3 separate regions of the Homo sapiens genome follow, and all the other regions are linked to region 3. The links come from fine-mapping of genetic effects on gene expression. A gene starts in region 3. Each other region holds a variant in brackets. All regions are shown on one strand. Distances are from middle to middle. Region 1 has its middle 17 kb from the start of ARMCX1. Region 2 has its middle 17 kb from the start of HNRNPH2. Region 3 holds the start of ARMCX4 (armadillo repeat containing X-linked 4).

Region 1 (4,246 bases), 48 kb after region 3:
AACAAATTGTATAAAATGTTACCACACACTCAATTGCTTAAAACAAGACAAATTTATTATCATACAGTTCTAGAGGTCAGAAGACTAAAATGGGTTGAAAGGGCTGTGTTACCACTGGATGCTCTAGTGGAGAATCTATTTCCTTGCATTGTCCAGCTTCTACAGGCGGCCTGAATTCCACTGTTTCACTGCCTGATTCTATTGTCACATCTTTTTCTGACTCATCTGCTTCCTTCCTTCCTTTACAAGGACGCTGTGATTACACTGGGCCCACCCAGATAGAACTGGATAATCTTCCTATCTCAATATTCTTAACATAATCACATCTGCAAAGTCCCTTTTGCTATATGAGGTAACATATTCACAGGTTCCAATATGTAGACATCTTTGAGGAGCCATTATTCTTCCCACAACAACAATTGTCAAGGATTCAATAATTCTTATACAATTTAAAGTGTTCTAGAGCTTAGGAAAATGTAGAAATTTACCTAATTCTTTCTCTAAGGCTAACATAATGCTTATGTCCAAACAAAGAAGAATAGAAGTAAAAAAGTAAACATGAGAGGTCAGTCTAACTTAGAACTATAGATGTAAATATCCAAAATAGAATAGTAGTAAATTCAAGCTAGTACTGTGGCAAAATAATAGAATAGTGCAAATAGTCATATTTTTATGTCTATGTTATCTTTGCTAGATTTTAGCATCGATATTATGGAAGCTATGCCTGGACTCAACAACACGAACTTCTACTCACCAAGGCTGATCTTGTACTAATACTAAGTGCCCAACCTGACAACAGAGAAGATGATGAGCCTTTATAAGACACCATTCCTTAGGGGCATCAGCCAGTCCCATGGTGTTAGGATTATTACATGGGACACCTTTCATCATCATGAAAACAGAAACTTTTCCTCATGGAAATGAATATGTATTTTAGACACACATTTACCTTCTTTGCTGACAATGATTCTGTCATCACCATCTCCATGGACTTCCAGAATGCCTTAATCATCATCAGAGTATCCTACACAAAGTTGTCTCTGACCAAGGAACTCATTTAATGGTAAGTGAAGTGCACATCCAAAGATTCACTAGTCTTTACTACTTACTTTACCATGCAGAAGCAGCTTGCCTTACACAAAAATAAATAACTTACTGGAAGCTTAGTTATGGGATCAGCTGTTCCTGGGAGTACTGTACGACAAGATTGCAATAGATGCTTTAACAGAGCCACCCATATATGGTGCTTTTTTTCCCCATAGTGAGGTTACACAGGACTAGGAATAAAGAAGTCATGAAAGCAGTGGCCCTTTTCACTATTGCACCAGTTAACCTACTGAAGAAGTATGTGATTCTTTTTTTCTGTCTCCACAACCTTGGGCTCTTAGGTATATCAGGGATGAATGCTTTCACCAGGGAATAAAGCCATGGTTCCATTATATTAAAAGCTGAGACTACATTCTGGCCATTTTTGTCCTCTCGTGCCACTGAACTGACAGGCAGGGAAAGGGGCTGCTATAGTGGCTAGAGGGATTGAGCCCAATTACTAAGGGGAAATAAGGTTGCTGATATACAAACAGGGAGAGCAATGCTCAGAGCCCAGGGATACTCACTGGGGCACCTCCTAGTACTGCTTTGCCTAATAGTCCTGGGAAGTGGGAAAGTGCAGAAATTCAATAAATACAGGATTGAAGATTAGGGTCACTACATCAGGGAAATAATTTTGACCAGGTTTCTGTAAGGGGAATATGAAATGGGTGGTAGAAGAATGAAGTTGATTATTGACTTTGGCCTCATGATCAGCTTCAGTGGGAAACTGTAACAGCTATGCACATCTTTGTTAATTTATTTTTCTCTTCCTTTCCTCTGATTATATGAAAAATACTTGAGATAATTGTTATAAATCAGGTTTCAGGTGGGCGAATATGATTGAATTAGCATTATCCCGTGACAGTACGGTGGCTGATGGGATTTTTTTTGTCCCTGCCTCCCTGTTGGGAGAATAGAATAACAAGAATAGATGCTGAATGTGAAAGGAGTGGGCCATGGTGGTTAGTCTTTATTTTCCCACACATCCTGATTCATTTCCTGTCCTTCTCTGTCTTGTTCTATGCCCTGGGCGGCTGATCCTTAGGGACTGCATCCCCCAGACTCCATTTGTAATTGACTTCTGCTTGGGTTTGGTCAATGGAATGCCCTGGCACAGCTTTGGA[G/C]GGAAGAAGAGAGAAGACAATGTATTTCTTCACTGCTCCCACTCTGATTTGGGCTATGTTTTATTGGCAGGGACTGCATCCCTTCAAGATTTTAGCTTCTTCCAGAAGTCCCCTCCTCCATGACTCTAGCTCTCACTAGGCTCCAGAAATACTATTTCTTCCTCTTGCCCTCTTAGGCCTAGGGTAACAGCTACCTGCTATTGCTAACCTCTGGGTGCCACAAAATTGCTTGTTGGGTCTCATAATCTTGCATATACCTCTGTAAGTAGTCCCTACATTAAAGTCCCTTGAACCATCTGATTTAGATTTTTTTACTGGCTAGGACTCTGACTGAGGTGCTGGTGTGAGGCCTAGAATTACTGCAGCTATTTTGATACCATTAGAATGCACAGTCAAGGATAAAGCTTTCATGTAAGGAAGGGTATAGCAGAGAAAATTATAGAAAAATGAAGCAGAATCTTAATCAAATTGTACTTAAAGTCAGATAACTTCTGGATGCAACTCACTGAAGTAAGAATAGGTGGATATTTCTTAAATATGACAAAAATATATACATTTCTAACAAGAAGCCTTTCATGTTTAAGGGATAAACACTAGAAGCATTTCCATTAAAATTAGGAAAAAGACAAGAATGCCAGTTATTTCCACAATTATTTAACATTGTTCTAGAAGTACTAGTTAATGCAGTCAACCAAGAGAAAGAAATGTAATATTGATATTGGAAAGGAAGGGGCAGGCAAGATTATCATTACCACAAATGAAGCAAATCTAAGAGAATCAACTAAAGACTACTTGAAACCTTTGGAACTCCATAAAAAGGCTGGTTATGAAATCAATAGAATAAAAACTGATCACTTTCATATATAAAAACAACAAACAAAATGTAAAATAAGAAAAAAAATCTAAATTACAATAGCCATGGGAAAAGATAAGCTCCTTTTGAATAAACTTAACAAAAAAATCTGTAAGACATATCCATTCATTCAGTAAATATGGATTGATAACCTACAGTGTGCCAGGCAATGTTCTAGGAGTTATTTTTATTTAAAAAATTTAGAAACTGCTGAGAAAAATAAAGACAAATAAGTAGAAAAACTGGGTTGTTGGATAGAAAGATATTCCTGTAAAGATGCCAATTATCACTCAGTTAACTTATAAATTATGTGCAACACAAATTGAAATTAAAAACGGTAGTTTTTAGGGGACTATAACAAAATAACAGATTTTAGTCTCTAAATAAATACATGTGAACAGGCAGGTAATGATAAAAAAGATGAGTTATGAGAGACCTTACCCTTCAGATATTGAAACATATTATGAAGATACTATAGTTAAAACAGTTTGTTATTTAAGAAGAAAGAAAAGATAACAGATTAAAAGAATATAATAAAGAATAAAGAAATAGATACAAACATATGTGGATGTTTAGATTATGATAATTATGGTAAAGATGGCACTTTATTTTTTATTTTTTGGGTATTATACATTTAATTTAAAGACTTCGAAGTAAAAAAAAAAGGTACAGAAATACAGATTACATTGTGATGACCCCAGTAGTATTCTACATGACAAAAATAAAAACAGATTTAAGTAAATGTATCGGCACTGAACAAGCATTTACTTAACATCCAATCCAGGCTGCATATGCACAAAATGATCTGACCACATGCTTATGCAAAGTAGTTTTTCTTAGAACGCCAAAATTCCAACCATTCTGACTGTCCGCTGCGCATTCCCCTGTTGAGTATTTTGAGCGAACTTCTATAGAATATAAAAACAATTGGCATGGCACTTAAAGACTGCAAAAAACAGAACACAATTAAAAACATTTATAATGCATTTCTGTATAAAATATACACCATAAAGACCACCCTGAATAATGGTTAAAACCTCATCATAGAAAAATGCTCATCATTTTGCACATTATTGATAGAAACTACTGAGAGGTTTTCTTGGGGGGCTGGTGGGAAGGTAGACACCCAACTTAAAGATTCATTCAAAATTTGCTTTAAATTGTGGGTAATAACTCACTG
Region 2 (4,246 bases), 60 kb before region 3:
TATTTTTACTAGAGACAATGTTTCACCATGTTGGCCAGGCTGGTCTTGAACTCCTGACCTCAGGCGATCCACTGGCCTCGGCCCCCCAAAGTGCTGGGATTACAGGCGTGAGCCACCATGCCCATGGGGCAATTAAATTTTAACATGAGTTTTGGAGAAGACAAACATTCAAACCATGGTAGTCTTCATCCTCATTTTCGCGAATTACAGCTTTTAAAACCCTTAGAATCTCTGAGGTGATGAGAGTATCTTTTGCCCTGGGTGGTGGCTCACGCTTGTAATCCCAGCACTTTGGGAGGCCGAGGTGGGCGGATCACCAGGGGTCAGGAGTTTGAGACCAGCCTGACCAACATCGTGAAACCCCATCTCTACTAAGAATACACAATTAGCCGGGCATGGTGACACATGCCTGTAATCCCAGCTACTTGGGACGCTGAGGCAGGAGAATCGCTTGAACCTGGGAGGCGGAGGTTGCAGTGAGCTGAGATCACGCCATTGCACTCTAGCCTGGGCAACAAGAGTGAAACTCCGTCTCAAAAAAATAAAAATAAAAATAAAAATAAAAAAGTATCTTTTGCATGCTAATGAGATAACTGGTGGCTGAGGCTCCTAGGTAGATTTAGGACGGGGGCGCTGGTCAAGGCAGGATTAGAGAGTTGAGACTTTTTCACCACACCCCCAGCCTCTGGGGAAGGGAGAGGAGCTGAAGGTTAAATTGACTAGCAGTGGCCAATGATGTAATCAATCATGCCTACATAGTAAAGCCTCTATTTTATTTATTTTTTATTTTTATATTTTGAGATGGAGTCTCACTCTTGTTGCCCAGGCTGGAGTATAATGGCGTGATCTTGCCTCACTGCAACCTCCATCTCACGGGTTCAAGCGATTCTCCTGCCTCAGCCTCCCAAGTAGCTGGGATTACAGGCATGCACCACCACGCCTGGCAAATTTTGTATTTTTAGTAGAGACAGGGTTTTGCCATGTTGGTGGGGCTGGTCTCGAACTCCTGACCTTATGTGATCCACCCACCTCGGCCTCCCAAAGTGCTGGGATTACAGGCGTGAGCCACCGTGCCTGGCTGTAAAGTCTATAAAAACCCGAAAGAATTGGGTTTGGAGAGCTTCTGGATAGCGAACACATGGAGGTACCTAGAGGGTGCTGTGCTTGTAGGGGGCATGGAAGCTTGGTGCCCCTTATCCTGTACCTTGTCCTATGTGATTGTTCCATCTGGCTGTCCATCTATATGCTTTGTAATATCCTTTATAATAAACCTGTAAACATGTTTTTCAGAGTTCTGTGACCCTCTCTAGCAAATTAATCAAACCCAAGGGGAGGGTCATGGGAACCCTGATTTACAGTGGGTCAGTCAGAAGCATAGCTTACAACCTGGCATCTGAAGTGGAGAGCAGTCTTGTGAGCCTGAGCTCTCAAACTGTGGGATCTGACACTATCTCCAGGTAGGTAGTAACAGAACTGAATTCAATTAGAGGACATCCAGCTGGTGTCCACTGCAAAACTGATTGCTTGATGTATGGGAAAATTCTCCCATACATCTGGGGCTACAGAAGCATTCTATATTAAATAGAGAGTATAGGAAAATCCACATTTTGTTTACTCCCCCCTGTATCTTACAGTGAGAGTGAGCGGTCAAGGGTGACTTCTCAGTTTCTGGCTTGTACAACTGGATGTTTGGAGTAACAGCATTAAGAAGCAGGACCTTTAAGATCACATTGAATACTAAGTTCAGGTATGAGGACTGTGAGTTTAGTCTTAGACATACTGTGTTTGACGTGCCTTTGAGAACACCCAAGAGAATATAGGTAGTTGGATGGATGGATCTAGAGCTCAGAAGGGGCCTATATATTGGATATATAAATTGTGTGCTATATGGATATAGTTGATAATTCAAGCCATGTGTGGGGATAAGGTTGTCTAGGCCAAAGAGTATCAGAGTGAGAATGCAGGAGATCAAAGAAGGAGGCTTGAGAAACTCCAGTATTTCATGTGGAGTACAGGAGAGTCAGCCTGCAAAGGAGACTGGGAAACAGCAGCCAGGGAGGTTTAAAAGAAAGTTAGGAGGGACTTGTGTCATTGAAGCCAAAGAAAGAAACTGTTTCAAGATGTAGGGAATGGACTGTTAACAATGTCCATTGCTGCTCAGAGGTCAAATAAGATGTGGACTGGTAAATATGTGTTGCATTTAAGAATATGGAGGCATTGGTGTCCTGGATGGATCTATTTTCATGGAATGACGGGGCAGAAATCTAGAATGGAACAGATTGGAGTGTGGTTAGCAGAGAGAGGAAGGCACTTTTTTTTTTTTTTTTTGAGACGGAGTTTCACTCTTGTTGCCCAAGCTGGAGTGCAATGGTGCGATCTCGGCTCAC[T/C]GCAACTTCCGCCTCCCGGGTTCAAGCAATTTTCCTGCCTCAGCCTCCCGAGTAGCTGGGATTACAGGCGCACACCACCATGCCCGACTAATTTTTTGTATTTTTAGTAGAAACGGGGTTTCACCATGTTAGCCAGGCTGGTCTTGAACTCCTTACCTCAGGTGATCCGCCTACCTCAGCCTCCCAAAGTGCTGGGATTACAGGTGTGAGGTACTGCGCCCAGCCGGTAGGCAAGTAATGGAAACAAAGAATATAGGCAGCTATTTGAAGCACTTTGGCTGTGAAGGGCATGGAAAAGTCAGGGTAGAAGCAGGAGCGAGACTACGGGTCAAGAGAGGCCTTTCAAATTATTTATTTATTTATTTTTTTGAGACAGGGTCTCACGCTGTTGCCCAGGCTGGAGTGCAGTGGCACAATCACAGCTCACTGCAGCCTTGATTTCTTGGGCTCAGGCGATTCTCCCACTTCAGTCTTCTGAGTAGCTGGGATTAGAGGTGCGCACACCACCACGCTGGGCTAATTTTTGCATTTTTTGTAGACATGGGGTCTTGCCATGTTACCCAGTCTGGTCTCGAATTCCAGGGCTCAAGCAATCTGCCTGCCTTAGCCTCCCAAAGTGCTGGGATTACAGTCTTGAGCTGCTGCACCCAGCCAAGGACTTTTTTTAATGGAGAAATTTTGTGGATGTGTAAAGTTTACAATTAAGGGTCTGTAGGGAGTGAGTGGTTAAAAATACAGCAGAGAGATGGGATAAATCATAGAGTACGTTTGCTAAGAGAGAGGAGCATCTGGAATCGAAAGCATAGGTGGAGGAATTAGTGTTCACTAAAAGGCAAGAGCATCTCTGTCTTAATTGAGGAACTAACTGCTGGTAGGATGTGTGCAGGTATAGTTGGTTTATGTTTGGTGTTAGGAAGATGAGAGACAACTTCCTTCTAAAGGCTCCCCCAACCCCGTTATTTTTTCTGTAAATGAGGGTGTGGTCATCTGCATGTAGAGATAATAAGGAGGAGGAGTTGGAAGGCTGAAGAGAATGGAGAAGGTTCAATGAGTTGTAAGGGTGAGAGCAGGTTGTAGGTTGACCAGAGAAAAATAGAAGGACTGCTGAGAAATGTTGATGGCTCACTTCTGGTTGTTGATGGTAAATTTACTATGAGCCAAGCTTTATTTTTTTCTAAGTGCTTCTCTAAGTGTTCTAGTGTTTTATTTAATCCCCAAAGCAGCTCTATGAGGTAGGTATTATTATTATCACCCCCTTGTCACAGATGGTAAAATGGAGGTACAGCAAAGTTGTGTCATTTGTTTAAGGACAAAGAGCTAGCTAGGTTTGGAGCCAGGTAGTCTGACTCCAAAGCCCATGATCTTAACCATCACTCTAAAATATATCCTAAAAATAGGTCCTGATCATACTTTTTCATTGATAAACATAGATCTGTATAATCACATTTAAGGACTACATTGTTGGTTTTATGCTTGATGGTCTGTCCAGTGACTTTTCCAGAAACTCTCTAGCTGCATTCTTGAGTCAATGCCAAATCTCAGAAAGGAGAGAGCTTATTTGAACCCTATGTTACAAGAGTTTTGATTTCCTTTCCTTCTAGTTTGTTGTATTTTCCAATTTTCTATAGAGAGTACATATAATTTTCATTTTGTGGGGAAAAATAAAGTTAACATCTCTAAAATAAAAAAGCCAGGCTAGGAAGGGAATAGAGGTCTAAGACTCAGTGTTTTTAAAATCTACTATAGCTAAACATGTTTACTTTGTGTCTTAGTTTATTTTGTGTTACTATAACAGAATATCTGAGACTGTGTAATTTATAAAGAAAAGAGGTTTATTTAGAGGTTTATTTAGTTTTGCA
Region 3 (4,246 bases):
ACAGAGTCTCACTCTGTCAGCCAGACTGGAGTGCAGTGGCGTGATCTAGGCTCACTGCAACCTCCATCCCTTGGGTTCAAGCCATTCTCCTGACTCAGCCTTGCAAGTAGCTGGGGTTATAAGCGCCTGCCACTGCGCCCGGCTAATTTTTGTATTTTTAATAGAAACGGGGTTTCACCACGTTGGCCAGGCTGGTCTTGAACTCCTGACCTCGTGATCCACCTGCTTCGGCCTCCCAAAGTGCTGGGATTACAGGTGTGAGCCACCGTGCCCGGCTGCGTCAGTTTTTTCAAACCTTACAAGCATTGCGAAAAAAAAAAATTCTAGTAAATATATCTTTGTGAAACTGTGTAGGCATATAGGTTGGCTAAATTCCAAGGAATAGAATTATTGGGTCAAAGAATTTGTGAAATATTATAGTTATCATTTAATAGAGTTTGCCAAATTGCCCTATATAAAAAGCTTGCATCAATATCTGCCTCCAACAGAGTAGAGGAGTGCCCATTTCTTGACAAACCAGTCAACAATATTATCAAGTTTCTAAACTTTGAGAAAATCATACTTGAAACATGGTAAGGCATAGTTGCTTTGATTTGCATTTCTTTGTTTGAGCATCTTTTCATATGTTTATTAGTAATCTATTTCTTTTCTGTGAACAAATCTGTTCATGTCTTTTGGCACATTTTTCTATTGGGTTGTTTATCATTTTACTAATGATCTGTAAGAGCTTTTAGATTATTACAAGTTAGCCTTTTGACAGTCAATGTTTATGGTTTTTTTTTTTTACTTTACCAAAGTTTAAAATTTGTATGCAATTAATTTATCAATATTTTCCTTTGGTGGAGAAAGTAAGTTCGTCACTTTCAATTGAGTTCTGAAAAGCCATTAGTAAGATTGTAAGGCACTAGGACTTCCTTTCTTGGCTCCTGAAAGGGCCTCCTCCACACAGGGGCCCCTCACAGTGGAGCCCCTCCCTCTGGGGTGTCCTATTTCAATGTTCTAAGAAAGAGGCTGCCTGGAGGGTCTATATTTGGAGTATGACTCCTCAGCGGGGACAGGTGGATGCGTGGGGACTAACTTCTGCATATTTGGTCCCTGAGTTTTGGGATTATTCTGAGGGGCTTGTATGGGAGGTGCAGTGAAGTTGTAACACAAGGCAGGACATGAAAAAACTTCTTTTTCTTGGCAATTGCTTGGGATCCTGTACATTGCCCTTCCACTTGTGAGGGAAAAAAATAATGACACGGACATCAGGTGTGTTGCAGTGATTCACAGTCATCCACAGACCCTCACCACCATCTCCACTGGAAAATATTGAACACTCGCCACTGCTAGGGTAGTATGTAGTACATGAATGGCAGACACCGGCGAGATCTCAAGTGTTACGACGGATGAAAATTCCACCTGTTAAGTCTCCTTTCCATCCAAGCTCTAGCAGTTGGTTGTTCCATGGGTGTGGTGAGGCTGATCTGATTACATGCTTATGTAAAATCCAAATAAAGCCCCTTGAATGGAAAACAGGTTAATTTGGGAAGTCACTAGTAAAGCAGGTTAATTTGGTAAGTCACTAGTAAAGCACTAGGCTCATCAGGAGTTGGGTCTTAAATATATCCTCTAGAAGTCTTCTCTGAAGAAGGTCTTAGACACCTGAAAAAAGATGCTGAGTTCAGCCAGAACTTCAAAAGTTACAAATCACCTGTGTAAAATTGTCAATATTAGAAAACGAAATGTCTTTCCAAAGATTAACTTATAGATCATATTGAATACGTGCTGGTTTTGTTTAGGACAATTTTGTATTTAAAATGTCAAGAATTACTAGTCAATTTTGAAAGCTGTAAAATAGTTTGCAGTAACAGAAGACATTTTAAAATGTGGCACAAAATAATGTAAACAAAAGAATGAGTCTTTTGTTATTTTTACACCCTGAATATTTTTTGTGTCAAATGAAAATGGCTATACTGTATTTTCTGATTACAATATTAGAAAAGAATGTCATATTAAAAGAAAAAAAAGGAACACGAAAAAGAAAATTAAAGCTCTACTTGCACCTTCTGCTTTCCTTCCTGATACCCCCTTCCACAGCCCATTTGGTGCAGGCATTGTACTTAGAGAGGGCAGGTCGTGTAGGGGGCGGGTGGGGAGTGCTGGTCTTATAGTCTAAGAGAGAAATAAGTGATTACTCAAAGAAGAAACATAAAAGGCCACAGCCAAGGGCCGGGAGTGGGTAGGGGGATGCAGACCCTCCCCTGTAACTGAAGATGGGTAAACTCCAACCACAAGGCGATGATGCCACTTGTGGGCCCTCAGATTGGAGAGGACGGAGATGAGTGACAACGCGTGCGCACTGGGGCACCGAGCACAGACCAGAGAACGGGGATGTCTGTGCGTGCGGAGTGGAGGAGGGGGGAGTTCCTGGTGACTGGCCGCCGGCCCTTGGTGGGTGGTAGGGGGTGCTGGGGAGGAGGGCGAGCTCGGCGGTGACGCGCGGTCCTCACGTGACCCGGAGCTGCAGAGCTACGCAGCCTTCGTTGCAGTCGTCACTCGCATCTGGCTACCAGCTCCCCGCTGCCCTGCGCTCGGCGGGCTGGCATCGGGCCCGGGGAAAGCGGAGCAGGTAAGGGCCCTGGGGCCCGCGCGCCCTGGCCAGGCCGGCAGAAGCTCACTGACCCCGGCAGCGGTTACGGGGCTTGAGGGGGCGGTGGTCTATGCTGCCTCAAGTTCGAGGAGCCTTTGCCTCTGATTCTCCCTAGCCCCCTTGCCCCCGCCTACATCTGTGCAGGCGAACCGTGGGCTTTGATTTGTGGGGAGATTGTCTCTGCCAGAGGGAAATACAGAGATTGAGATGCCCATCGCTCTAATCACTGGCCACACATGTCCGCTCGCTTCCTGCTCAATTTAGTGGAAGGGATGCGCCACGGTGGCGTTTGCAGAGAAAATGGTGGGCCTTAGAGACTGGACGGTGGGGTTGGTAAGGGTGGTGTCTCAGACTGTGGGGAGGGACGTTTGATAACCAGGTTCCTGAACCCGGAAAGGCGAGTATTGGGATCTATGTCCTGGGCTCTAGACCAACACTAAGTGGTTTTACTCTCTCCTGTCTGTCGGACAGTAGTTCGGTGTAGCACTGTTTGCGGCGAGGAGAAAGGAAGGAGAGGAGAAAACTGCACTGGATCAAGGAGGTTAGTGTGAGTACAGACACTATCTAAACCATTGGAGTTCCATATGAATTCTATGACAGGAACTTAGGTGCGGCTGTCTGAATGGGATGTGGGGTGGGGCTAGCTTGGGGACTTTCCCTAAACTGCATTTTACTTACCAAGCTTAGGACTTTTAAATTGTATGTTGAAGACCAATGAAGACAGCAAACTTTTCTACAGATGCTTTTATTTGCATTTCAGATAATATTGAGAAAAAGATAAATTATATTAAAGAATATTATTATTATTATTATTTTTTAGATAGCCTTTGGTGGGGAAGGATAGTGATTTTGTAGAAGCAAAAGGCTTCCCCTATAGCTTTTCTCTTCTGCTGGAGACTCCTAGAGATAGGTTGAAAGGGACGTGGACAGCAGTAGGTTGTGGTTCTAGAGTATGGGATCTGGGGTCTCCCATCTCTCCTGCCATCCTTCAGTTTTCCAGATCCCTCTACCTACCTGACCATCTTGGTGAAGGAAATGGTGGGCTTTTGGGGAAATCCCTAGAACCCTACAGGTGGTTTTAAAATAATTTGCCTTGTTGGGCCTAGTAGCTCTTGCCTGTAATCCCAGCACTTTGAGAGACCCAAGCAAGAGGATTGCTTGAGCTCAGGTGTTCAAGACCAGCCTGGGCAACATAGCGAGACTTCATCTCTACATATAATTTAAAAATTAGCTGGGTATGGTGGCACAGTCTGTAGTTCCTGCTACTTGGGAGGCTGAGGTGGGAGGATCTTTTGAGCCTGGGAGGTCGAGACTGTGGTGAGCCATGATCTTGCCACTGCAATCCAGCCTGGGTGACAGAGTGGGGCTCTGTCTCAAAATAAATAAAAAATAAAATAAATAAAATAAAATAAAATAAAATAAAATAACGTGCCTCTGTCTGTTGCCTTTTACTTTTCCTGCCTCCCTTTTCCATCCTTCCCATTTCAGTGCTGGGGAAGCCCCAGGCTTTTTTTTTTTTTTTTTTCTGCCAGCAAATGGGTCTCTAAATCCAGGCAGGCAGGTACAGGGACCTATGTCTTAGATGGTAAGTGTCACAAGTACTTAACATCC

The links. PIP is the estimated chance that this variant, and not a neighbour inherited with it, causes the effect. A credible set is the group of variants that fine-mapping cannot tell apart.
Region 1: its variant is the best candidate, but not a certain one, in a credible set for the expression of ARMCX4 in whole blood (TOPMed, PIP 0.64).
Region 2: its variant is the best candidate, but not a certain one, in a credible set for the expression of ARMCX4 in esophagus muscle (GTEx, PIP 0.74).

The regions. Positions count from the first base shown.
Region 1 is chrX:101,530,950-101,535,195 of GRCh38, forward strand. It overlaps a transcript of ARMCX4 not described here and the pseudogene PRKCIP1. Among named protein-coding and RNA genes, the nearest start is that of ARMCX1, 17 kb to the right of the region's middle. The variant G/C (reference allele first, on the strand shown) is at 2,214.
Region 2 is chrX:101,423,083-101,427,328 of GRCh38, forward strand. It overlaps a transcript of ARMCX4 not described here. Among named protein-coding and RNA genes, the nearest start is that of HNRNPH2, 17 kb to the left of the region's middle. The variant T/C (reference allele first, on the strand shown) is at 2,388.
Region 3 is chrX:101,482,917-101,487,162 of GRCh38, forward strand. ARMCX4 (armadillo repeat containing X-linked 4) reads left to right here and starts at 2,540. Exons shown (of 6, transcript NM_001256155.3): 1 at 2,540-2,614; 2 at 3,107-3,176.